Regions from separate parts of the Homo sapiens genome. Here all the other regions are linked to region 1. Evidence: fine-mapped expression QTL. A gene starts in region 1. Each other region holds a variant in brackets. All regions are shown on one strand. Distances are between the middles of the regions. Region 1 holds the start of AVEN (apoptosis and caspase activation inhibitor). Region 2 overlaps AVEN (apoptosis and caspase activation inhibitor). Region 3 overlaps AVEN (apoptosis and caspase activation inhibitor).

What was found. PIP is the estimated chance that this variant, and not a neighbour inherited with it, causes the effect. A credible set is the group of variants that fine-mapping cannot tell apart.
Region 2: its variant is the best candidate, but not a certain one, in a credible set for the expression of AVEN in whole blood (TOPMed, PIP 0.80).
Region 3: its variant is the best candidate, but not a certain one, in a credible set for the expression of AVEN in tibial nerve (GTEx, PIP 0.72).

Annotation. Positions count from the first base shown.
Region 1 is chr15:34,034,818-34,043,000 of GRCh38, reverse strand. AVEN (apoptosis and caspase activation inhibitor) reads left to right here and starts at 3,797. Exons shown (of 6, transcript NM_020371.3): 1 at 3,797-4,221. The coding sequence starts at 3,955. The region is part of intron 1 of CHRM5 (cholinergic receptor muscarinic 5); the gene reads right to left. RefSeq lists silencers at 3,705-3,874, 4,055-4,264, 4,355-4,414, 4,765-4,824.
Region 2 is chr15:33,951,786-33,959,968 of GRCh38, reverse strand. The region is part of intron 2 of AVEN (apoptosis and caspase activation inhibitor); the gene reads left to right. Among named protein-coding and RNA genes, the nearest start is that of CHRM5, 13 kb to the left of the region's middle. The variant G/A (reference allele first, on the strand shown) is at 3,892.
Region 3 is chr15:33,991,635-33,999,817 of GRCh38, reverse strand. All of the region lies in intron 2 of AVEN (apoptosis and caspase activation inhibitor), which reads left to right. All of the region lies in intron 1 of CHRM5 (cholinergic receptor muscarinic 5), which reads right to left. Among named protein-coding and RNA genes, the nearest start is that of CHRM5, 27 kb to the right of the region's middle. The variant C/T (reference allele first, on the strand shown) is at 3,549.

The DNA.
Region 1 (8,183 bases):
GCTGGGATTACAGGCGTGAGCCACCGCGCCTGGCCAATCCATAGTCTTAGACTAGGAATTACTGGGTTTCTTGTGATGTTTGAAGGCTCAGATGCTACCTTGACACAGTAGTTGAGGATGCATCAGAATCAACTGGCAGGTTTATTAAGACACAGATTACTGGGCCTCATCCCCAGAGTTTTAATTCTGAATTTGCATTTCTAACAAGTTCCCAGGTGATGCTATTTTTCTGGCCTACATTTTGAGAACAACTACCTTAAGGAATTGGCTACCATTTTATTTAAAAAATAACTTAGGTTGCCGGGCACGGTGGCTGTTGCCTGTAATCCCAGCACTTTGGGAGGCTGAGGCGGATGGATCACCTGAGGTCGGGAGTTTGAGACCAGCCTGACCAACATGGAGAAACCCCGTCTCTACTAAAAATACAAAAAAATTAGCCGGGCGTGGTGGTGCATGCCTGTAATCCTAGCTACTCAGGAAGCTGAGGCAGGAGAATCGCTTGAACCTGGGAGGCAGAGGTTGTGGTGAGCTGAGATTGCGCCATTGTACTCCAGCCTGGGCAACAAGTGCGAAACTCCGTCTCAAAAAAAAAAAAAAAAAAAAACTTAGGTCATGTATGTATTAAAAATATGCAAAAAGTACAGTTTCGTTTCTAAGGAGCTACCTATATAATTCAGCACTTTGGTTTTGATACTCATGAATTCTCATGAGTCCTACCTAAGGGAAAACTGAATTTTTTATTCATGCAATGGCATATGTTTAAAATCAGGACTATCAAGCAAAAGCAATACCAGAAAAGATTCCTTCCCTTTGTTATTTATGCAATCCAAAGGTCTCTGGTTGCTCAAAATGCAGGAGGTACTTGTGTGGTATTTTTAAACCTTAATAACACATTTTTGGACCAGAATCACACGAGGACAGCATATACCGTATCCTTGTTGAAAGAACTTTGGCTAGTTGTGTCCGCTAATTAGGAAGTGCTAGAAGGGGGACCTCAGAATTTTCCTATCCTAAACACTCTTGGTTGAATTGAGAAAAACAAGATACGCCTTGAATGAACAGATGGAGAGTAACATACCCCCGGACTTCTGAGGGCATCTGCAGAATAGACTTACAGGCATGGATTCTGGAATTAGACTGTACTGGTATAAATCCCAGTTCTGTTACTTACTAGCTTGAGCAAATTATTTAACTTTTTTGCAACTCAGTTTTCTTATCTGTAAAATAGGAATAATAATAGTGTTTATTTCATAGGGATATTTTGAAGATTTAATGAGTTAGTACGTGGAAAGTGCTTAGAATAGTATCAGGTGCAAAATAAGTGTTAAAAAAACTTGGCATCATCCACAAACCAATCTCTCTCTAAAATGGCATACCTTTCAAAAGTGTTACTGAGTCTTACACTGACTAGTTGAAAGTATCAAGCATAGTGAATGTGCCCTAATAACACTGGCTTAATCTGCAAGCCACTGATCTTTTCAACCTCATAATTTTGGAGGCTTCTCAAGGGATAGTTATATAGTTCCTTAAAGCCCTATTTCCCACTGGTCTCGTCTCTCACTACATTGGAGATGTACATATTAATCTCATACCAGACATTTGCCCAAATCAGGGTTTCTCAATGTTGGCAAATTTAAGGCTGGATAAATTTTTGGATAAATTACATCGGTAGCTCCTTAGATACTAAAACGTACCTTTTGCACCAATCTATCTGTGCTAGTGGTTCTCATCCAGGGTGATTGCCTCTCAGGGAACATTTGGCAATGTCTGGAGATGTTTTTGGTTGTCTTAATGAGGGGGAGAGGGGTTCATTCTGGCATCTAGTGGGTAGAGGCCAGGGATGCTATTAAATATTCTACAATGCACAGGATAAGCTACCGCCACAAAATGTTACCCAGCCCTAAATTTGCCAACATTGAGAAACTCCGATTTGTGCAAATGTCTAGTTTGAGATTAATGTGTGGATCTTCAACTTGGTGAGAGGCCAGACCAGTGATATGCTGGTAGATATTTAACCATATTCTTCCATGCCCCTTCCCCACTGCTATGGTCTAAATGTTCATCTCCCTCAAAATTCATGTTGAAATCTTTTTTTTTTTTTTAGACAGTCTCCTTCTGTTGCCCATGTACAATCACAGCTCACTACAGCCTCAACCTCCTGGGCTCAAATGATTCTCTATCTTAGCCTCCCAAGTAGTGGGACTATAGGCATATACCACCATGCCCAGCTAATTTTTGTAGAAATGGGGTTTCACCATGTTGCCCAGGCTGATCTTGAACTCATGTCTCAGGCAATCCACCCGCCACAGCCTCCCAAAATGCTGGGATTACAGGCACGAACCACACACCTGGCCTGTAACTGTGTAATCTTGGAAGTTACTTAACATCTGTTTTAGATTCCTGATCTGTAAAATGGAGACAACACTAGCTTACCTCGTAGGCCAGCTATTAGTCCCAAATGAAGTGATATGAGAAGTATGTAGAATAGTGTTTGGTGCATATAAGTGCTCTACAAGTGTTACTATTTTTAAGACTGTTTCTCTGGAGTTGACAATCCTTCAATAGTTCCCCCTGTCTGGAAGGCGCCCCTACTCCCATTTACCAACCAGGCAAACTCCTACTCAACCATTAGGCTTTAGCTCAGGGGTCTATTTCTCATGAAGCCTTGGGTAACCCGTTTAAATATAATTTAACTTTTCTTCTTTGGACCTTGATCTTGAATCTCTCACTGCACTCAGCAACACGGTACTGTAATCATCTATTCACACGACTAGATTATCTTCCTTGTGGGCAGTGAGCTACTTGAGGGCAGGGGCAAGGTTTTTTTTTTGTTTTTGTTTTTAATTTCAGGACATAGCACTGTGCCTGATGCAGAGTAGGCAATTAGAAGCAATGAAAAGTATTAACTATGTATGGATATAGGAAAGAACCAGAAAGTACTGAGGGGGAAGAAAACACTTATTCTGCTAGGCTGACATTTTAGCCCTTGCTTTCATTATTTTCAGGTGGTTTCAGTCCCAAGTTAAAAACTGCTTTCATGCATCTGTGTAACCAACTGTTCCCCTTCCTGTTTTCTCCTTGGTTGAAAGAAGGGACTGGAGTGAGACCGCCTTAGAATGCCAGTTCCACCACTACCTAGTTATTCACTTTAGTCAAGTTTTTTTTAACCTTTCCAAGGCTGTTACCTCACTGCAGAATAAGGATGACAGTCATCCCTACCTCATAGAGCTGTTATGAGAATGAAATACTCATGTGCTCAATAAATGTCAGCTGTAGTAGTCATTTCTACAGAAATTCTGCTGAGGACTTTGACGCCCTTTCTAGCCATCTCCCAGTTTCGCACTGTTCTCTCTCCCACGTGCTGCAGTCCACCTCTCACCAGACACAAACTCTTGTCTTTACATCCACACCTCCTGAACCCTGACTTCGGTATAGTTTTAAAATGATACACATTCGTTGCTGAAAATTAGATTAAACGGAGGAAAAAAAATTAACTCACTTCAAATCTCAGCAGTTAACCACTAACATTTTAGTATGTATTTGTTTAGACCTTTTCTTATGCAAATACATACGTTTAAACTTTTTTTTTCCGAGAGTTCACATCATACAAATTTTATTTTATGACTCGTCCTTGCACTTAGCACGGTCTCTCCCCCAACCTATCTCTGATGCCTTGAGAATCCCCCCGCCCCGCTGCAGACCCCCACCACTTCCAGCTCCCAGCGGTCCGGCCTTCCCGCGGTCCCGGTTCCGGCCCCACCTGCGGGACGCCGGCCGCCCCGCCCCGCCCCGCTCCGCTGCGGCCGGCCTCGATCCCTAGCCCCGCACCCCGCGCCTCGCTGCTACCGGGCGCCTTTCGCTCGCGGCTCCTCCGTGCGGCCCGCTTCCGGTGGGGCCAGGGCGTCTCCGCCGCAGCTCGGCTCCCGCGCGCTCAGCACCGCCAGCGGCGGCCAGATGCAGGCGGAGCGAGGAGCTCGGGGAGGCCGTGGGCGGCGGCCAGGCCGCGGCCGGCCTGGCGGAGATCGCCACAGCGAGCGGCCCGGAGCCGCAGCGGCGGTAGCCAGAGGCGGCGGCGGAGGCGGCGGCGGGGACGGAGGCGGACGCCGGGGCCGTGGCCGTGGCCGGGGCTTCCGCGGCGCTCGCGGAGGCCGAGGAGGAGGAGGCGCCCCGCGAGGCAGCCGCCGGGAGCCGGGAGGCTGGGGCGCAGGGGCCAGCGCGCCGGTAAGAGGCGACGGCTGGTGGGGCTGGGACCGCGTGTAACTGGGGCAAGTGGGGCCGAGGCCGCCAGTCAAGAGCCGCAAGAGAGCGTGCCAGGCGCGCGCCAGACGGGCGGCGGCGCCGGCGCCTGCGCGGGACGGGCGGATGGTGGCGCGGGGGCGCGCCTGGTGGCGGGGGCGCGCCTGGGTATGCGCTTGGCCCTCGTGGCCTCCTGGCCGGGCTGGCGCGAGACAGTGGGGGTAGGAGGGCTTCCCAGCCTGCCCCAGGGTCCGGGTTAGGAACCCAGAGGCCAAGGCCGTGTGTCAGGGCTGCAAGTCTCGGCGGCCCGTGGGCCGGCTGGGCTGTCTGTACGAGTACCACTATGGGACGGAGGCGCGGCCACGACGTGGTCCCTCGGCAGCCTTTACGGGCACGCTCCTGTTATTAGGAGGGAAAGGATTTTTTGGTCTGTTTTGTTAACTGTCTGTGCAATGCCTAGTACACAGTAGGCGCATAATAAAAAGTTTGTTGAGTGAAAGAATGACCCCTACGACTGGACTCTAGTATTTGGGGGCGGGACCAGATGCATAGTTCTTTGTAATAGCGTAGTTCTCTTTTATTATGCCTGTATGTGTAGAAATCAGCGAGCACTGGGCTTTGTCGTTTTGAATTTTCAATTTATAAATGAGCAGTCAAGTTCTGAGTTTTAATAGCAATATCATCAGTCTTATTGACACATTCATAGAAGGAAGTTTTTGGAGATTGGAGCAGGGGATGATATATATGGGGGCAAAGCTAACCATATCTCAGCTAAAGGAGTTAGAGGACTGTCTTTTTATGAGTTGTTCTGTTACCTTAACATCTGTAGGACAAGACCATCTTTATATTCTGCATTCTTATGCACACTGATTTAAAAAATTCTTTTTTGCATGAGGCAAAATTTGCTCTTACTGAAGTATTTACAATATCTTGAGGGCATAGCAGATAAGATATCCCTAAAGAGAGTAGTTGTATACAGCAATACAGAGCTGGAAAAAAAAGTATAAAACTTAAATTTAAATGTAACAAACTTAAATCTTGTTAGGATTAAGATAGGTAATAGGCAAAACTTGAATGAGATATAAAAACATTTTTAGGGTCAGTTTACCTCGTGTAAACTGACAGAAACTAAGGTAAATGACAGAAACTAAGACCAACCTAGTGCCCACTATATATCACATTTTGTTCTTATAACTCTATTATATATATATAATATATATGTAATGTAGAATTATGTAATATAATAGTATGTAATTATATATTAACTACAATGTTATATATTATTTATATATCCATATATAGAGAGTAATCTTTATTTTTACAGGTTAACTGACTTGCCTAAGCTTTCACAGCTAGTGGCAGAGCTGGGATTTATATCAAGCTGCCCTTGAGTCAACAGTATTTTATCTCTTACTTTTTCGTGAACCAGTTACCACTTTATTGAGAACAAAGTAGATATTCCTTAGCTGCAGGGATCGTGCTTTAAGAGTAATTGTAGTAATGGTACATTTGGTGTTAACTATGGTGTCTGGCGCACAGGACTTTACTAATAAGTGTCTTTAAGTTGAATTGAGTGAGTGAAGGTGCTTCTGTTTTGTTAATCTCTGTTGAATTAAATTGGGTGAAATGATGGTATATATTTTTTTTTTTTTTTTGAGACGGAGTTTTACTCTTGTTGCCCAGGCTGGAGTGCAATGGCATGATCTTGGCTTGCTGCAACCTCCGCCTCCCGGGTTCAAGTGATTCTCCTGCCTCAGCCTCCCAAGTAGCTGGGATTACAGGCATGAGCCACCTTGCCCGGCTAATTTTGTATTTTTAATAGAGATGGGGTTTCACCATGTTGGTCAGGCTGGTCTCGAACTCCTGACCTCAGGTGATCCACCCGCCTCGGCCTCCCAAGGTGCTGGGATATGGATTACAGGTGTGACCCACTGCGCCTGGTCATGATGGTATATCATTAAAAGAAAGAATAATACAAGACTTTAAAAAATTTAAGATAGTATTGTAACACATTCTGTTAAAATTTTAGGCTTTTTCTTTTGTCGAGTTGGTCTTATCCCTTCATCATCATGTTTTCAGCCAAAGCTGGAGGGAGGGATGTTGGGCAGATTGTTCCTTAATTTTGGTTTGGATTGGTCATCTCTAAGTTCCTTCCATTTCTCAGATTCTGAAGTACTGTTTGTATTTAGTCTTGCTAGGACACCATTTTTGGTGCTTAACCATTACATGAGACAAGATTGATTGACTTTCCTGAAGCCTTCTTGTTCTCATATCCCATGGTGCATTTGTGCCCCAAGGAGAGAGTAACCGAAATGATCAAAGGAAAAAAAAATCATAATAGACTCCTAGCCATGTAAAGACCAGTTGTCCACCTTCAGAAACCAATTTTGTGTACACCTTTGCTTTCTATTTTGGACCACTGCATACAAATGGAAAACAAAATCAATCTAACCAACTTCTACATAGCTATGTAATACTCCAGGGTAACTTAGTTGAGTACTAAGTTGAGTACATCTCTTAGTCTCTTGCTCTTAAATCATTCCTTCTGTAAATGGTCTGAGCTCTAAGCTTACTGATTATGGGTGAGCATAATTATCTTCACGGAATACTCACTAGAAGCATTATTGTACTAGATACAATCATTAACTTTAAAAAAAAAACACAAAACTGGCTGGGTGTGGTGGCTCGCGCTTGTAATCCCAGCACTTTGGGAGGCTGAGGTGGGTGGGTCACTTGAGTCTGGGAGTTCGAGACCAGACTGGGCAACATAACGAGACCCCCTCTCTATAAAAAAAATACAAAACTGCCGAGCATGGCGGGGTGCATCTGTAGTCCCTGCTACAAGGGAGGCTGAAGCAGCCGGATTGTTTTGAGCCCCGGAGGTGGAGGCTGCAGTGAGCTGTGATCCTGCCACTGCACTCCAGCCTGGGCAATAGAGTGAGACTCTGTCTCAAATAACTAACTTACTAACTAAATGAATAAATAATCCCCCTATCACTGCCCCCAATACTAGGATTGTTTAGTATTTATCTTTGTGATGGGCTGTTAGCAGAGAGGAAGACAAGGCCAGCTGGTAGTCTTTGGAATTTTTTTTCTTTTTTCCTTCCTCTAGTAATAACAGTAATTCACATTTGTCGAGTACTTAATATAAGATGAGACAGCTGAGGCACCGTTAAATAACTCACAGTTAGGAGAGGTGAAATAACTTTTTAATATCACTCAACCAGAAAATTGCTGAGCCTGGATTCCACCCCAGCATTTTCACTCCAGAGCCTGTTCTTTCGACTGCTGCTCTAAACTGCTCCTGGAATGACTTTGAGATTTGAAAAAGGGGTGTGTGGAGGACTGTTGAGTGATTCTTTCACATGCCTGATTATTTTTTTAACTGATATGTTAGTATGGTTATAAGGTTTTAAGGTAACATTGGTACCATCTTCAGTTATTGTGGGTGTTACCAGACCTTTGCTTTCTTGCTCCATGTTTATATTGCAGCTTTTCATATTCCTTTTAAAATGATTTATATTCAATAAAAGATGAGACAGCTGTTTATAGTTGTACTAAAAAGTAGAATCTGGAGGCATTTAATTCTGATCAAACTTTTGCTTTGTAAACAAAGCCTGAGTAGTAATTAATACCCGATGGCGTTGACATTTTCATTTCACTGGGTAAAAAGGAAATCTCTAATTTTCTATTCAAGTTTAGTGTGAACCTGGAGGGAAGAAATGGTGTCAGATCAGTTACAGGCAGGTGTCTAAGGACTTGCTCCTTCATTGTTGCTCAGAGTAGCCACCAGCCGCTTGTCAGCCAGCTAGAGACTGAGAGCCTGTTAAAAGCTCAAACTGAAATGACAGCCTCTAGACTTTATTTTCCTTTTTTTCCAGAAAGCCTGAAGCAAATTTGGTTAGAAACTGAATGTGCTTAAGTGTCCCAACAGAAGATTGCTTTAA
Region 2 (8,183 bases), 83 kb after region 1:
ATGTTGGAGTTCAGTGGCATCTTCTGCTTAGTGATGTTTTTGATTTTTGGTTAAATCTCACCATGACATGCCTTTCATTTTTTTGCATATGTGTCTCTTTGTGTATTTGATATATATCCTTTCTGCTGTAATAGGATTCATTCTGTTGTCACATTCCATGTTGTAGAAATTGGTTTATATGTCTTTCTGATCTCCACTAAACGTTTCTCCAGGGTAGACACCATGCTTTACTCCTTATAATGTCTCCAGCATTTGCTGAGAAGGACCAGCTCTGCCTCCTCTTCTTCCTCGTTCTCATTCCAGTTCACCTGGTGTCTGACCTTTCTTGTTGCTTATTCTTAGTGCTTGAACCTAATGACCTGTCTTTAGAGGGGTTGGGGAGTGGGCACTGGTGTGGAGAGAGGAGGGGGCCTCCCTCTGCCCCTAGGTAGAGTCTGGGGGTTCAAGAGTGTGGTGCTCGGAGGGCTATGGCTATGACTGAAGTGTAGGGAGTAGTGAGAGAGGTTAAAGAGGCATTAAGGGGCCTGAAGGTAGACTTGGATTGGACTTCCTGCTGAGGAATCTGAACTTTGTTTAGTAGACAAGAGGGACCTATTGAAAGGTCATAAGCAGGGAAGTGATATGAAGAGATTACCTAAAACTGCTGCACATTCAGGTCCTTGAAGACTGAAATTCGTATTTAAAAAAGTATGGCATAAACAGGTAATTATTCTATCTAGTAGGAAAATGTAAGGTCAGAGAGGAGAGTAATTAATTCTGCCTTGGGTTTGATGACAGGAAGCTTTCACAAATGAGGTGATGTTTCAACTGGATACTAAAGGGTAGCTAGGATTGCACCATGCAGGGAAGTTGGGAAGATGGAATTTTAGACGTGAGAAGCAGCTTGAGTGAAGAATCAGAGGCAAGCATATGCTTGGCATATTGGGAAAATCTTGACCCTGCTGATGTTGATGTGGTGCCAGGTCTGAGGAGACCAATGGCTTGAGAGGAGACTGGATAGGATGGGCTGAAAGCAGGTCACCAAAGGTTTTTGGTGCCCCACTATGGAGTGAAGATTTTATGCTCTAGATAGAGGGGAGCTGTGAGCTTTAAAAAAGCAGCTAAAAGACACGAGCACACCTATGGCATAGAGAAATAGCTCTAGCAGTTTAGAGGATGAATTGGAAAATGAGAGCTGGATGCTATTCTACCAGACCAGGTAAAATAAACAAAGGTGCCTGTTGAACTAGGATGGTGGGATTAGAAAGAGTATAAATAGAGGATTAGGAATGAAGAAGAGGCATGTTTCAAAGGTTAATTTAGCAGATGTGATTGGCTGTATGGGGAAAAGTGTATAAAGAAGTTTTCTTTCTTTTCTTTTCCTTTTTTTTTTTTTCTTGAGATAGGGTCTTGCTGTCTTGCCCAGGCTGGAGTGCAGTGGCATGATCTGGGCTCACTGTAACCTCTGCCTCCTGAGTTCAAGTGATTCTCCTCCCTCAGCCACCTGAGTAGCTGGGATTACAGATGTGTGCTACCATGCCTGGCTGATTTTTTTGTTGTTGTTGTATTTTTAGTAGAGATGGGGTTTCGCCATGTTGGCCAGGCCAGTCTTGAACTCCTGGCCTTAAGCGATCCACCCACCTCTGCCTCCCAAAGGGCTGGGACTGCAGGCGTGAGCCACAGTGCATGGCGAGAAGAAGTTTTCTTATTATTCAAGCGTCTAGGTGAATTATTTTGCAATTTATCAAGGTAAGGAAAACAGGAGGAGAAGACAGATTTGGTTAAAGATAATATTTTGAAAAGTTCATCCACATTTTAAAATTTGGGGTATAATTTACATATAAAATGCTCAAATCTTAACAGTTTGATAAGCTTTGACAATTTATGTACACCTGTGTAACCACTTCTACAAACAAGTTATAGAATAGTGGTTCTTAATATTTAGTGTGCATTAGAAACACCTGGATGGCTTGACGGACCGTAAGTTGCTACTCCCACTCAGAGTTTCAGATTTAGTAGATCTGGGGTGAGGACTGAGAATTCAACTTTCTAACAATTCCCAAGTGCCACTGGGTTCAGGGACCACACTTTGGAAACTGCTGATATAAAATACCACTGTCACTCCAGAAAGGCCCTCTTCACCCTTTTTGCCTCTCTCCCCAGGCAATCACAGTTCTGATTTCTAGCACTGTGATTAGTTTGCCTATTCCTGGACTGCACAAATGGAATTATTCAGTATTCGCTTATGTCTGGCTTTTTTTTTTTTCATACAATATAATGATTTTGAGATTCCCCTATGTTGTTGCATGGGGTTTATTCCTTTTTACCCGCTGACTAGCATTCCATCATGTGACTAGATCACAATTTGTTTATCATTTCTCCTGTTGACAGACATTTGATTTAGTTTCAATTTTGGGATATTATAAATAAAACTTCCGTGAATATTAATATACAAGTCTTTTTGTGGTTATATGTTTTCATTTCTCTTGGGTAAATACGTAGGAGTAGGATTGTTGGGTCCTAGGGTAAATTTATGCTTAATTTTATAAGAAACTGCCAAAATAGTTTTCCATAGTGGTTGTAATGTAGTCAAATTGTGATTAAATTTTTATTGACTCTAGTGAAGATCCTAGACATTGACTAGACTGAAGGACTTTTTGTCAAAGAAGAAAGGTCTCTAATGGACAAGGAAGCTTGGCAGTGTTACCCTTTGGGATATACGTGTGGCTAAATAACAGTGACCGTGGAACTCTTCCAAATCCTAAGAGAATTGAAATCTATGTTTAGATTTAAAAAATGTAGTTCATTATTCATTCAAAGAACAGTTAATAAGCACTTACCATATATTAGCCATAGAAGGGCACGTGGCTCCCAGTACTGTTCCTGAGGAGCTCACAGGTAAAACAAATTATTAAACTTTAAGAAGGTGCAAGGCAGTGCCTTAAATCTAAACTATCTTACTCCTAGTTTATCTGAATGTTATTTTTCCAGAAATTCTAAATATCAGACAATGAGGACATAAACCAAAAAACCCAAAAAAAACTCCCGAACATTTCACATCACTGGGGAAAAAGATGGATTTGTCAGGAAAATGGTGTTGGTCCAAGTGGAGTTCACCATCTGGGAAAAAAATTGGTATTCAAACCTCGTATCAGGATGATGTCAACATGTGCCAAAGAGTTTAATGCAAAACAAAAACTTAATGTAATAAAAATATTAGAACAAATTATAGACATACTCTTTTCTAATGTCAGAATAGGGAAGGTGTTTTAAAATATTGGACAAAATCCAGAAATACAAGGCTGTTAAATCTGATTATCTAAAAGTGACGAATTTCTGCATGGCAAAACCCACCATAACCAAGGCCAAAAGATAAATGATTATGTGTGTGTGGGCAGGGGAGATAGGATGGTGACTCATTACAGAGAACTAGTTTCCAATATATATGATGTGTTTTAACAACCCTATTAAAACTGGGCAAAGGCTATGAGCAGACTGTTCACAGAAAATGAAATGCAAATGGCTCTTAAACATGTGAAAAGATGCTCAATGCACTCATAGGAGAGATGCAAATTAATTACACTGAAATACATATTTTCAGTTATCAGATTGACAGATCAGAAAGTTTGATTAGACTTTGCACTGGCAAGAGTGAGGATGCGCAGTGTTGGAGAAGAAGGGCATTTCAAGTTGAGGGGAATTGGAGGAGCGGGGAGATGGAAATGGGAAAGGTAGGGCCAGCACATTAGAGCAGGACAGGTGAGCTAATGTAGGGGCAGGCGTGTTGACTTTAGCAAGGAGCGACAGCTGGCGCTCTAGTGTCATGGGAGAAGCAGGGAAACTAGATAGCTACACGCAATAACTACAAATGCTGGTCACCGCGGAGGCAGACGGCCCTACAGATAACAGCCC[G/A]AGGGAGTCACTTACCCCAAAAGGTCACATTATTCCCAGCATTTTCCATTTAAGGAAGCATTAAAATAGAATTTTTAATGGAATGAAAATTTAACACTCTTAACAAATTATAGTTTAAAGATATATTCTTCAGTTGTCTTAAATTTAATTTTTGGAGAATATATATGAAGATGCTGAATACATGAAACACATCTCTACTGGTTTAGCTGCTTATTGCTGTTTGTAGCTTTTCTTATGGTGAATTACGTTACATCACTGAATGCTTAGGACAAAAATGTGCAGTCATGCTTGTGTCTCCCTTTGGTTGCAAAGGTAGCATAAGTAACTGATTCGGAGAGAGATTAACTATTAGTGTTTAATTTTGGAAAAGCAAGTAATGCATGTAATTTAACAGAATGGTGCTTTTCTTTTTAATTCCCATCCCCCCGACATTTCTTATCTTCCTATGACTTCTGCCTCATCACTCATTTTATTTTCAGAATTCTAAAATTCATAATACTCTTTAAAATGAAACTATCATTTTTCCTGACTAGCTTAGTATTGGAGGTAAATAGATAACTGCTTGAGATACCTTTTGGTCTAGGACGTTATAATTCTGTGTGGTACATTATAGTTTTAAGCGTTGTACGTTGTGGATTATGCCTGCAGATTTATACATATTAGGGGCAAATAGAGCACCAAATATTTAATGATATTCTTGTTTGCTTACATTCCTAAAGAAGAATGTAATTACATGTTCAAACCAACAAGTTAACTTGATTTACATTTTCCTTCTCACTCACAATTTGGTTGCTATCTAGATTTTTTTTTAAAATTCAACCCTATGCCCAAATATATTTCAATAGTTCCTTGAGTCACTAAGACAAAAGATTAAGGGAAAAAAGTACACCTAATAGAATACTTTGAATATTGACCAGCAAAGATTGTATAGTATTTTCTGACACTTAAGGTTATAGATTACATTTTAAAAAAATTAAAACAAAAAAGACAATACTGTGGTGTCAGATAGATAGTATTCTTTATGGTATCTGAAAAGCAAGCTTATTTTATATTGAATTCTTGTACAGATGGGCATTATCCAAAATGTCCTGTACTCACTCCAGTGCAAAGCTGTAGAAAGATAGCCATTTGGTACCTTCCAGTGGCCCTTTCAAGGACTTTTCTGGGTAGAAAATCTAATGATTGAGAAAATGTTGATATTGATAACTCAGATATTATTTATCTTAGTTAAGAAGAGTTGAGTTTGTGGGACTAGATGCAGATTGAAAAGTCTTTATTATACTTTAAGTTCTAGGGTACATGTGCACAACGTACAGATTTGTTACATATGTATACATGTGCCATGTTGGTGTGCTGCACCCATTAACTCGTCGTTTACATTAGGTATATCTCCTAATGCTATTCCCTCCCCCCTCCCCCCACCCCATGACAGGCCCTGGGGTGTGATGTTCCCCACCCTGTGTCCAAGTGTTCTCATTGTTCAATTCCCTCCTATGAGTGAGAACATATGGTGTTTGGTTTTCTGTCCTTGTGATAGTTTGCTCAGAATGATGGTTTCCAGCTTCATCCATGTCCCTGCAAAGGACATGAACTCATCCTTTTTTCTGGCTGCATAGTATTCCATGATGTATATGTGCCACATTTTCTTCATCCAGTCTATCATTGATGGACATTTGGGTTGGTTCCAAGTCTTTGCTATTGTGAATAGTGCCACAATAAACATACGTGTGCATGTGTCTTTATAGTAGCATGATTTATAATCCTTTGGGTATATACCCAGTAATGGGATCGCTGGGTCAAATGGTATTTCTAGTTCTAGATCCTTGAGGAATAGCCACACTGTCTTCCGCAATGGTTGAACTTGTTTACACTCCTGCCAACAGTGTAAAAGCGTTCCTATTTTTCCACATCCTCTCCAGCATCTGTTGTTTCCTGACTTTTTAATGATCGCCATTCTAACTGGCGTGAGATGGTATCTCATTGTGGTTTTGATTTGCATTTCTCTGATGACCAGTGATGATGAGCATTTTTTCATGTGTCTGTTGGCTGCATAAATGTCTTCTTTTGAGAAGTGTCTGTTCATATCCTTTGCCCACTTTTTGATGGGGTTGTTTGATTTTTTCTTGAAAATTTAAGTTCTCGAAAGTTTAAGTTCTTTGTAGATTCTGGATATTAGCCCTTTGCCAGATGGGTAAATTGCAAAAATTTTCTTCCATTGTATAGGTTGCCTGTTCACTCTGATGGTAGTTTCTTTTGCTGTGCAGAAGCCGTTTAGTTTAATTAGATCCCATTTGTCTGTTTTGGCTTTTGTTGCCATTGCTATTGGTGTTTTAGTCATGAAGTCCTTGCCTATGCTTATGTCCTGAATGGTAATGCCTAGGTTTTCTTTTAGGGTTTTTATGGTTTTAGGTCTAACATTTAAGTCTTTAATCCATCTTGAAATAATTTTTGTATAAAGTATAAGGAAGGGATCCAGTTTCAGCTTTCTACATATGGCTAGCCAGTTTTACCAGCACCATTTATTACATAGGGAATCCTTTCCCCATTGCTTGTTTTTGTCAGGTTTGTCAAAGATCAGATGGTTGTGGATGTGTGGTGTTATTTCTGAGGCCTCTGTTCTGTTCCATTGGTCTATATCTCTGTTTTGGTACCAGTACCATGCTGTTTTGGTTACTGTAGCCTTGTAGTATAGTTTGAAGTCAGGTAGCGTGATGCCTCCAGCTTTGTTCTTTTTGCATAGAATTGTCTTGGCAATGTGGGCTCTTTTTTGGTTCCATATGAACTTTAAAGTAGTTTTTTTTTTAATTCTGTGAAGAAAGTCATTGGTAGCTTGATGGGGATGGCATTGAATCTATAGATTACCTTGGGCAGTATGGTCATTTTCATGATATTGATTCTTCCTATCCATGAGCATGGAATGTTCTTCCACTTGTTTGTGTCCTCTTTATTTCGTAGAGCAGTGGTTTGTAGTTCTCCTTGAAGAGGTCCTTCACATCCCTTGTAAGTTGTATTCCTAGGTATTTTATTCTCTTTGTAGCATTTGTGAATGGGAGTTCACTCATGATTTGGCTCTCTTGTCTGTTATTGGTGTATAAGAATGCTTGTGATTTTTGCACACTGATTTTGTATCCTGAGACGAAAAGTCTTATTTTCTAATATAAATGTTGGGATGCTTAGGGATCTATGTGTTGTTGAAATGAAGTGTTTTTTTTTTTTTTTCTCTTTAGCCTCTTATGGACAAGGGTGTATGGCCTGTCCAACTTGGTGTTTTGGGCATATGTAGATGTCTTCGTATAGTGCCCTATTAGGCATTCAGACATACTTATTGGTTGATTGGTAAATTCTTGTCCATGCTGTTTTCCTCAGTTGGATAGTTTCAGTTCCACATCTAGTTCAACAATCTCAGAAGATTAGGTAAAGTTGTGTAGTTATTACAAAAAATGCATATTTAATATCTATTTTTTCATTTATGCTGTTTTGGGAGCCAGTTTTTAAAAAAGACGTAATACTCTTTCATTATTTATGCGGTTTCCTATCTTTTTGGAGAATCATTGTAATTTTATTGCCATTGAGTATGTTGGTATCTGACTCAGAAAGGGAAGAAATACTGAAATTACAGTGGATGAGACTTAATTTCTCATTTCCTGCAACCAAGTTACTACAGGTGTCCCAATTATGGATAAGCATCTATCTAGACAGATAAAGTAGGATAGATTTAGGAGTCATCTTCTAATAGTTTGGGGAATAGGTTGCAAGGTATATTGCTCTCTTTGCTAATGCTTTGCCTCCTCCAACTCCCTCTATCTATACCTTTGAACCTGGAGTGATTTTTTTTCCCCTTTTTGATGTGGAAGACAGGCTGACTTATCTTGCTATTGAAGATAATATCATTTCCACCTGTTTGTGAGCTGCTGTTATCTATATATCCACCTTGGCGCAGATTTATTTCTAAAGCTAGACCAGACAGAATTTTGTTCTAAAATATATCTTTTGTTACTGCAGCCACATAAACCCTGAATAATCTATACATCTTGCTATTGAAATCAAATGGATTTTTGAGCTCTAGAGCTCTGCTTACTTGGGTGGGGATGGTACATTGTGTATAGTAAGTATTTAGGAAATTAATGTTTGGCCTTGGTCTTATCCAGCTTTCCAGATGGAGTTGAGAGTGATTTCTCTGAGAAATAGAAGCATCTTCTCAGTAAAGATACATTTTTACTTTGAGTCTATTTATCAAACTTTCCTCTGTGCTAGTATGGTCTTTCCTAAACAATTTCTTCTTATCATTATTT
Region 3 (8,183 bases), 43 kb after region 1:
GAACTGAAGACTGGCAAGAGGGGAGCGGGTAGACTAGTTAGGAAGCCACTGCTACTACTAGTAGCAGGTAGACTAGTTAGGAAGCCACTAATAATAATCCAGGTAAGCAGCGGTGGTGGTTGCTGGGTCCAGAGGAGAGCAGTGGAGGTGGTGAAAAGTGGTTGGGTTAGATCTACGTAGAGAGAAGAGCAGAGAGCACTTGCAAATGCTGGGTATGAGAGAAAAAGATACGTAAGGATGACACTAGGTTTTGGGTCTGAACAGTGAGAAGAAGGGAGTTGCCCTTAACTGAGGTGTGTAAGTTATAGGAGGTACCAGTGTTGCATGTATTAAAAGTGAGATGTCACTTTGATACCTGTTGCAGTCAGAATTCCTTAATAAATGGCTGGCACACTCAATATAATTGAACACTTTGACAAAGGAATCATTTACAAAGGTATGTGTAGAGTCTAATGAAAGCACTGAGGTAGTGCTGTGTTGAGAGGGCAAGTAGCGGCAGAGATGTTACCACCCTAGTTACTGGAAATTTGAAGGGAGTCATAGAGAGTTGGCCTTGGGAGAATGAATCACCTTCGGTGAGGGGACTCAGCCAGTGAAGATGACCCCACTCTGAGAGAGTCAGAGGAATAAACATTCTCTTCCTCCCTCTGCCAAGGCTTCCATAAGTCTAACCTACTGGAAGCCAGAAGACAAGGGAAGTTGTAATCCATATTGGTCAACCTTCTAGGGTAGAACAGGTTGGAGAAGGGTGGAGGATAAATCTGCATTGGCACATGGAAGAGACCCAGCACAACATCTAATAGGCGACATGGAGCAGGCTGCTGGATAGAGGAATGTGGGGTTCAGGATCCAGGCCTGGGTTGGCAATAATACATTTGGGTGATGCCAGCCTATAGATGATATTTAAAGTCGTGAGAATGTATGAGATGACAGGGGGAGTTATTACCTAGAGAAGTACTGATTCCCAGGCACCACAGTGTCTAGAGTTTAGGGGAAAGAGAAGAGACCAGCAAAGGAGACTGAGCATGAGTGGTAGAAGAAAGAACCAGAGAGTGTAGTGTCTTTAAGTGTTTTGAAGCAGGAGGAGAGATCTGTATCAAATGCAGTTGATGACAATGAAGAATTGACTGTTAAATTTAACAGGAAGGTTATTGGTGATCTTCACAAGTGCAGTTTTGTTGGAGTGGTGGCATAAATTTTTTCTTGAATTTAAAAAGAATGTGGGAAGAGATGTTTGAGACAGCAGGTATAAATGACTTAATTTTAAGGAGTTTTGTTATAAAGGAAAGGAGAATAATGGGCTGGTGGGAGAAGTGAGTCAAGACTTTTTAATTTTTTCTTTTTTTGGCATTTCTTTTGTAGTGACAGGGTCTTCTTATGTTGCTTAGGCTGGTCTCGAATTCCTGGGCTCAAACAATCCTGCCTTGGCTTCCCAAAGTCCTGGGATTACTGATGTCAGCCACTATGCTTGGCCAGTTAAGACATTTTTTTAAAGGTGGGAGAAATAACTACATGTTTACTTGTTGATAGATCCAGAAAAGGGGACAAAAATCATAAGGGGAGGGGTGAGAATTCCTGGATCTGTGTTCTTTAGTAGATATGAGCTTGATAGGATCTATTGTGCAGGTGGAGGGATGGCCCATTGCTGGGGCTTGGGCAGTTTTCCAACTGTAATTGGAGGAAAGGCAGAATATATGGGCATAGATATGGGTAGATGGGTAGATGTCATGGAGGCTTGAGGAAGTGGTCTAAGAAAACCATGGATAAGTGTTGTGGAGGAGGTACTGGAAGTGGAAGGAGAGAGCAGAAGGTAAGAAATAGTTGTCAAGGAAGTGGGAAAGTATAGTTTCCTATTTTCCAAGTAGGAAAATGTGGTATAGATGTTGGGTGACAATAGGGGCCCACATGAAGTTGGTATTCATAAATTTAAGGTGAGAACAGGTATACTTTTCCCTGACTCATATTGTGCTGTATGGGTGCAGGCCCAGAAAGACCGGACGGAAGGGTAGGACTTAATCATGATTACAGTTTAGCAGAGCAAATGCAATGAAATGAGAGAGGGAAAAGGAGATGATTAGAATGATTGAAATGAATTTAAGTGGGATAAGGAAATAAGTGAAGATATGAGAGAAGATGAGGGGCAGTAAAAAGATATTGGGATCACAGGACTACAGATTTTTTCAGGGCAGAAGGATTATTGACCTTCTTGAGAAAGTGTGAGTTGGAGAGGTGGGAAGTGGTGGCTGTAGATTAGAATGTTTGACGTTGAGATTTGGTGGGGCAGGGGGTTGCGGATGACGGTAATGATATAGTCTTATATAAAAATACGGGTGTGCCTGGCTGTGAGTTGGTGTGGAGACCTCGTCTTTGGAGTTTTTAGTTTACATTTCCTTAGTTATTACTGAGGTTGAACATCTTTGTATTTGTGGTGCTTGCTTTCTTTGTGAACTGCTGCTCACATTCTTTGACCATTTGGCTATTTTGTTTCTTATTGATTTGTGGGTTAAAAAAAAAGTAGTCTTGATACTTATCTTTTGATATTTGTGTTTGCAGGTATCTCCTGATATGAGATTCACTTCTATAGTGTGTCTTTCAGTGCATTGTTTTAAATTTTAGTTGAATTTATCAATTTTCTATCCTACTGTTTATGCTGTTTTATGCCTTTAGAAATCCATCTTTCTCCCAAGGTTAAAGATGTTCTCCTATATTTTCTAGAAGTTCTAATTTTGCTTTTTTTCCTGAAGAATGTTACATTTTATTGTTTGCTACATTCTTGTGCCATGGTTTTCAGCCCCATCGGGTAATTTAAGGTCTTCTCTACGCTGTTTATTCTAGTTAGCCATTCATCTAATCTTTTTTCAAGCTTTTTAGCTTCCTTGCGATGGGTTCGAACAGCCTCCTTTAGCTGGGAGAAGTTTGTTATTACCAGCCTTCCGAAGCCTACTTCTGTCAGCTCATCAAAGTCATTCTCCATCCAGCTTTGTTCTCTTGCTAGCGAGGAGCTGCGTTCCTTTGGAGGACAAGAGGCGCTCTGGTTTTTAGAATTTTCAGCTTTTCTGCTCTGGTTTCTCCCCATCTTTGTGGTTTTATCTACCTTTGGTCTTTGATGCTGGTGACCTACAGATGGGGTTTTGGTGTGGATGTCCTTTTTGTTGATGTTGATGCTATTCCTTTCTGTTTGTTAGTTTTCCTTCTAACAGTCAGGTCCCTCAGCTGCAGGTCTGTTGGAGTTTGTGGGAGGTCCACTCCAGGCCCTGTTTGCCTGGGTATCACCAGCGGAGGCTGCAGAACAGCAAATATTGCAGGACAGCAAATGTTGCTGCCTGATCCTTCCTCTGGAAGCTTCGTCCCAGAGGGGCACCCGCCTGTATGAGGTGTCAGTCGGCCCCTACTGGGAGTTGTCTCCCAGTTAGGCTACATGGGGTTCAGGGACCCACTTGAGGAGGCAGTCTGTCGGTTCTCAGAACTCAAACACTGTGCTGGGAGAACCACACCTCTCTTCAGAGCTGTCAGACAGGGACGTTTAAGTCTGCAGAAGTTTCTGCTGC[C/T]GTTTGTCCAGCTATGCCCTGCCCCCAGGGGTGGGGTCTACAGAGGCAGCAGGCCTTGCTAAGCTGCAGTGGGCTCTGTCCACTTCAAGCTTCCCCAGCCACAATGTTTACCTACTCGAGTCTCAGCAATGGCAGACGCCCCTCCCCCTGCCAGGCTGCTGCCTCACAGGTCTATCTCAGACTGCTGCGCTAGCAGTGAGCAAGGCTGTGTGGGTGTGGGACCCACCTAGCCATGTGTGGGATATACTCCTGGTGTGCCATTTGCTAAGACTGTTGGAAAAGCGCAGTATTTGGGCGGAAGTGTCCAGATTTTCCAGGTACAGTCTGTCATGGCTTCCCTTGGCTAGGAAAGGGAAATCCCCTGACCCCTTGCGCTTCCAGGGTGAGGCAGCGCCCCGCCCCGCTTCAGCTCGCCCTCCGTGGCCTGCACCCACTGTCCAACCAGTCCGAATGAGATGAACCAGGTACCTCAGTTGGAAATGCAGAAATCACTGTCTTCTGCATTGATCACGCTGGGAGCTGCAGCAGCATTTTAAAAACCCAAATGATATAATGTCCCACTAATGGCTTATGACCTGCAGTTTGGTGTGGTCTGAAGCATCTGATTCATTTAGTCATTTCAGTAACTTCGAAAAATGTCTGAGCAGAAACTCTTTAGTTTAATTAGGTCCCACCTGTCAATTTTTGGTTTTGTTGCAATTGCTTTTGAGGACTTAAGGACTCAAAAGTTTTCCCTTGGTATCCAAGAGGGATGGTTTCAGGACGCCTGTGGATACCAAAATCTAGGAATGCTAAGTCTCTGATATAAAATGGCAAAATATTTGCATATAACCTATGCAAAAAGTATAGATACCTTCCTTTATATACTTTAAATCATCTTTAAATCACTTATAATATCTAATGCAATGTAAGTGCTATGTAAAGTTATACTGTATTATTTTTTATTTGTATTTTTATTGTTGTATTGTTATTTTAAAATAATTTTCTTTATTCATTTATTTTTAGAGAGACAGGGTTTTCCTCTGTCACCCAGGCTGGAGTGCAGTGGCATGATCATAGCTCACTGCAGCCTTGACCTCCTGGGCTCAAGCAATCCTCCTGCCCCAGCCTCCTGAGTAGGTGGGACTATAGAGGTGTGCCACCCACACCTGGCTGATTTCTTCATTTTTTTGTAGAGACAGGACCTTGCTGTGTTGCCCAGGCTGGTCTTGAATTCCTGGTCTCAAGTGATCCTCTCTCTTTGGCCTCCCAAAGTGCTGAGATTACAGGTGTGAGCCACTGTGCCTGGCCAGTATTATTATTTTTTATTTTTAAAAAATATTTTTGATCTATGGTTGGTTAAATCTACCAATGTGGATGGTTGCCTGTATGTTATTTTTTTCTTCCCAAATTAGCTGGACCTCTGGTCCAATTCTCAAATGTTATTTGGAAGATAGACCTTTATCTAAGAGTACACCTTTATCTAAGAGTAGAGAATATAGAACTTCAAGAGTAGAGAATATAGCTTAACATATATTCTCTAAGTAGATTTCCATTGTAACAGTGAATTTTTGAAGACTTGTAATTAAAAAGTGAATTTCTATTTCACACACACTGTATGTATATGTCGATGCTCACTTTGGAAGATAGTTTGCCATTTTCTGATAAAACTGAAGATCTAGCACTTTCACCCTTAAAGGATACTCTAGAGCAGAGGTCCCCAACCTTTTTGGCACCAGGGACCGGTTTTGTGGAAGACAATTTTTCCACAGACCAGGGTGAGGATGACGGTTTCAGGATGATTCAAGCGTGTTACATTTATTATGTGCTTTATTTCTATTATTATTACATTGTGATATGTAGTGAAATAATTATACAACTCACCATAATGTAGACTCAATGGGAGTCCTAAGCTTGTTTTCTTGCAACTGGATGGTCCCATCTGGGAATGATGGGAGACTGACAGATCATCAGGCCTTAGATTCTCATAAGGAGCGTGCAACCTGGATCCCTTGCATGTGCAGTTCACAATAGGGTTTGGCTCCTATGAGAATCGAATGCTGCTGCTGATCTGACAGGAGGTGGCGCTCAGGCACTAATGCAAGCAGTAGGGAGTGGCTGTAAATAGAGAAGAATCTGCTCACTTGCCCACCACTCACCTCCTGCTATGCAGCCCGGTTCCTAACAAGCCACAGACCGGTACTGATCCATGGTCTGGGGGTGGGGGACCCCCTGTTCTAGAGAAACTCCAGCACGTGTGTGCCCAAATGTTCACAGCTGTATGTTCAGAAGAGCCTCAGATGGAAGCAACGCAAATATTCATTAATAGTGGAATGAATACTTAAATAAGTGGATGAATCTTTTCAACATAGCATGAAGTAAAAGAAACATGCCCACAGAATTCGTTAGTATGATTCTATTATATAAAGTTCAAACACAGGAAAAAAAAACCCTATTTTTTAAGGATGTATATTTAAATACTAAAGTGACAATCAAGGAAATGATTATTCCAGATATCATGATTGCGGTCACCTCTAGTGGGGAGATGAGGTGTAATGATTGAGGAGGGCCCGGTAGCAGGTGTGGTGTTGGCAGTATTCTATTTCCTGGCCTGGATGATTGTTATTTATGTTGGTTTAATAATTATTCTATAAGCTCATATGTATTATCAATTTTTTATTTTACAGATCTCTTTATAAAAGGAATAAAACTCTTTAAAAGTGGATTTCTAATGGTAAAATTTCTGTTACCACCATAGAGGTGGGAACCATTTTTGGAGAGGCAGCCCTTTCCAGCCTGCCTCCTTCCACTTGTGCCACACGGGCATTGCCTGCTCTGTTTGTTTCTGACCACTGACAGTGACACTCTCATTTTTATTAGTGGTGGATATGGGAAAGGGGACGGTTGTTCAAAGTCATACTTTTTCTGGTAAGATTGTGAGTCTTTAGGTGTCTTTGTAGAACTCTTTCTGTTAGTCTCTGAAAGAGATAATCATGCCTTTGGCTTTTCTTTTTGAACAGTATTCTTGGCAGTTCTAAGTTACGTTTCAAGAGCTTTGAAAATGGCACCCCACTCTTACCTTCAAACGTAAAAAGTAAGATCTATGAGAAATTTCTTCTGCCCTTCATTTTTTTTCCCCAAAAGTCAAATCATTGAATTCATGCAATATGCATTGTCTGTTCCTTTCAAGATGTCACAGATAGCCAGAGTTAGAAAAATGTTTAACAGTGTGAGCAGAATGCACTGGATCAATATTGAAGAAAACGTGGGGAAAATATTATGTGCAAGTCTGTAAACACTATTTTTAGAGATACAAATAAAAACGAAATAACCAGACTGCAGTTTGGTCAGTATAGTTGTTGTCTGTGCATATTTTTGCTTAAAACTATTATATATTTTCTTCAATTTAATTTTATGAAAAGCTATTTTGGGTAGGAAATTTTAATTGTAATGACATTGGAATTTCTTCCCTCCTCTGTTCCTTGTGCCAACAATTAGACTGAAGGGAAAAGAAAGGATATTACTCTAGCAGCCTGTACTTTTAAATTAAACCTCGAACCTTTTCTTTCCATGAGGCAACAAGACAGTTTTATTTGTCCTCATTGATTCAGCTCATTTTTTTCCCTCTTCTTGTATGGTATATAGTTTGTGCCAATATAGTCTCATATTACAAAGGCAATATAGTAGAAGAAGATTCTTCCCTTTGATATTTAAAACATCTGAAATAACACAAACAGAACTATAAATTAAAAAATTTGTTCTGGCTGACAGGGCTAAAAAAATTTTCAATTGGATAACCAAAAAAATAAAAACAAGGAAAACTCCGATAACAAAAAAACTTTTCCTTGTAGCTGAATATTGAATATTGGGCCTAATTTGATTTTCTTTTTTCTTTTTTTTTGAGACGGAGTCCTGATCTGTCGCGCAGGCTGGAGTGCAGTGGCGCAATCTCGGCTCACTGCAAGCTCCGCCCCCCGGGCTGACGCCATTCTCCTCCCTCAGCCTCCCGAGTAGCTGGGACTACAGGTGCCCGCCACCACGCCCAGCTAACTGTTTTGTATTTTTTTAGTAGAGACGGGGTTTCACCTTGTTAGCCAGGATGGTCTCAAATCTTCTGACTTCGTGATCCCCCTGCCTTGGCCTCCCAGAGTGCTGGGATTACAGGCGTGAACCATCGCGCCCGGCCTGATTTTCTTTTTAAAAACCTTCAAAAGATAAGAGCAGAATTTGTGTGCTAAACTGCTAGTCTCCAGCGCCATTTTGTGTTTTCTGTTGTTTTGAAGCAATTCTTTGTTTTTGCTGGTCCAGCTGCATCATTTTCATCATCCTGAACTATCATTTTCCTGCCCTGAAGTTGTGCATTTCCTTTAGCAGATCCAGCCTAGGCAGCTTTATTTCCCTTTCTTTTTCCTTTAAATCTATGACCTTTTGATTCTCATTTGTTTAGAGATTCTTGGTGATTTTGCATGAGTTTTTTTCAGTGTTTCTTTTTCTACCTTTCTGTCTAGTAATTTCCACATCTCTTCCTTGTTTCTTAGTCATAGGTTACAATTGCTGGCTGCTTCTGCTTTATTTAGTGTTTCTTTAGCTTTTTTCTTACATAGAATTAATCTCTCTTTTGCTCTACTGATAAAGTGTATCCATTTTATTTCCCCA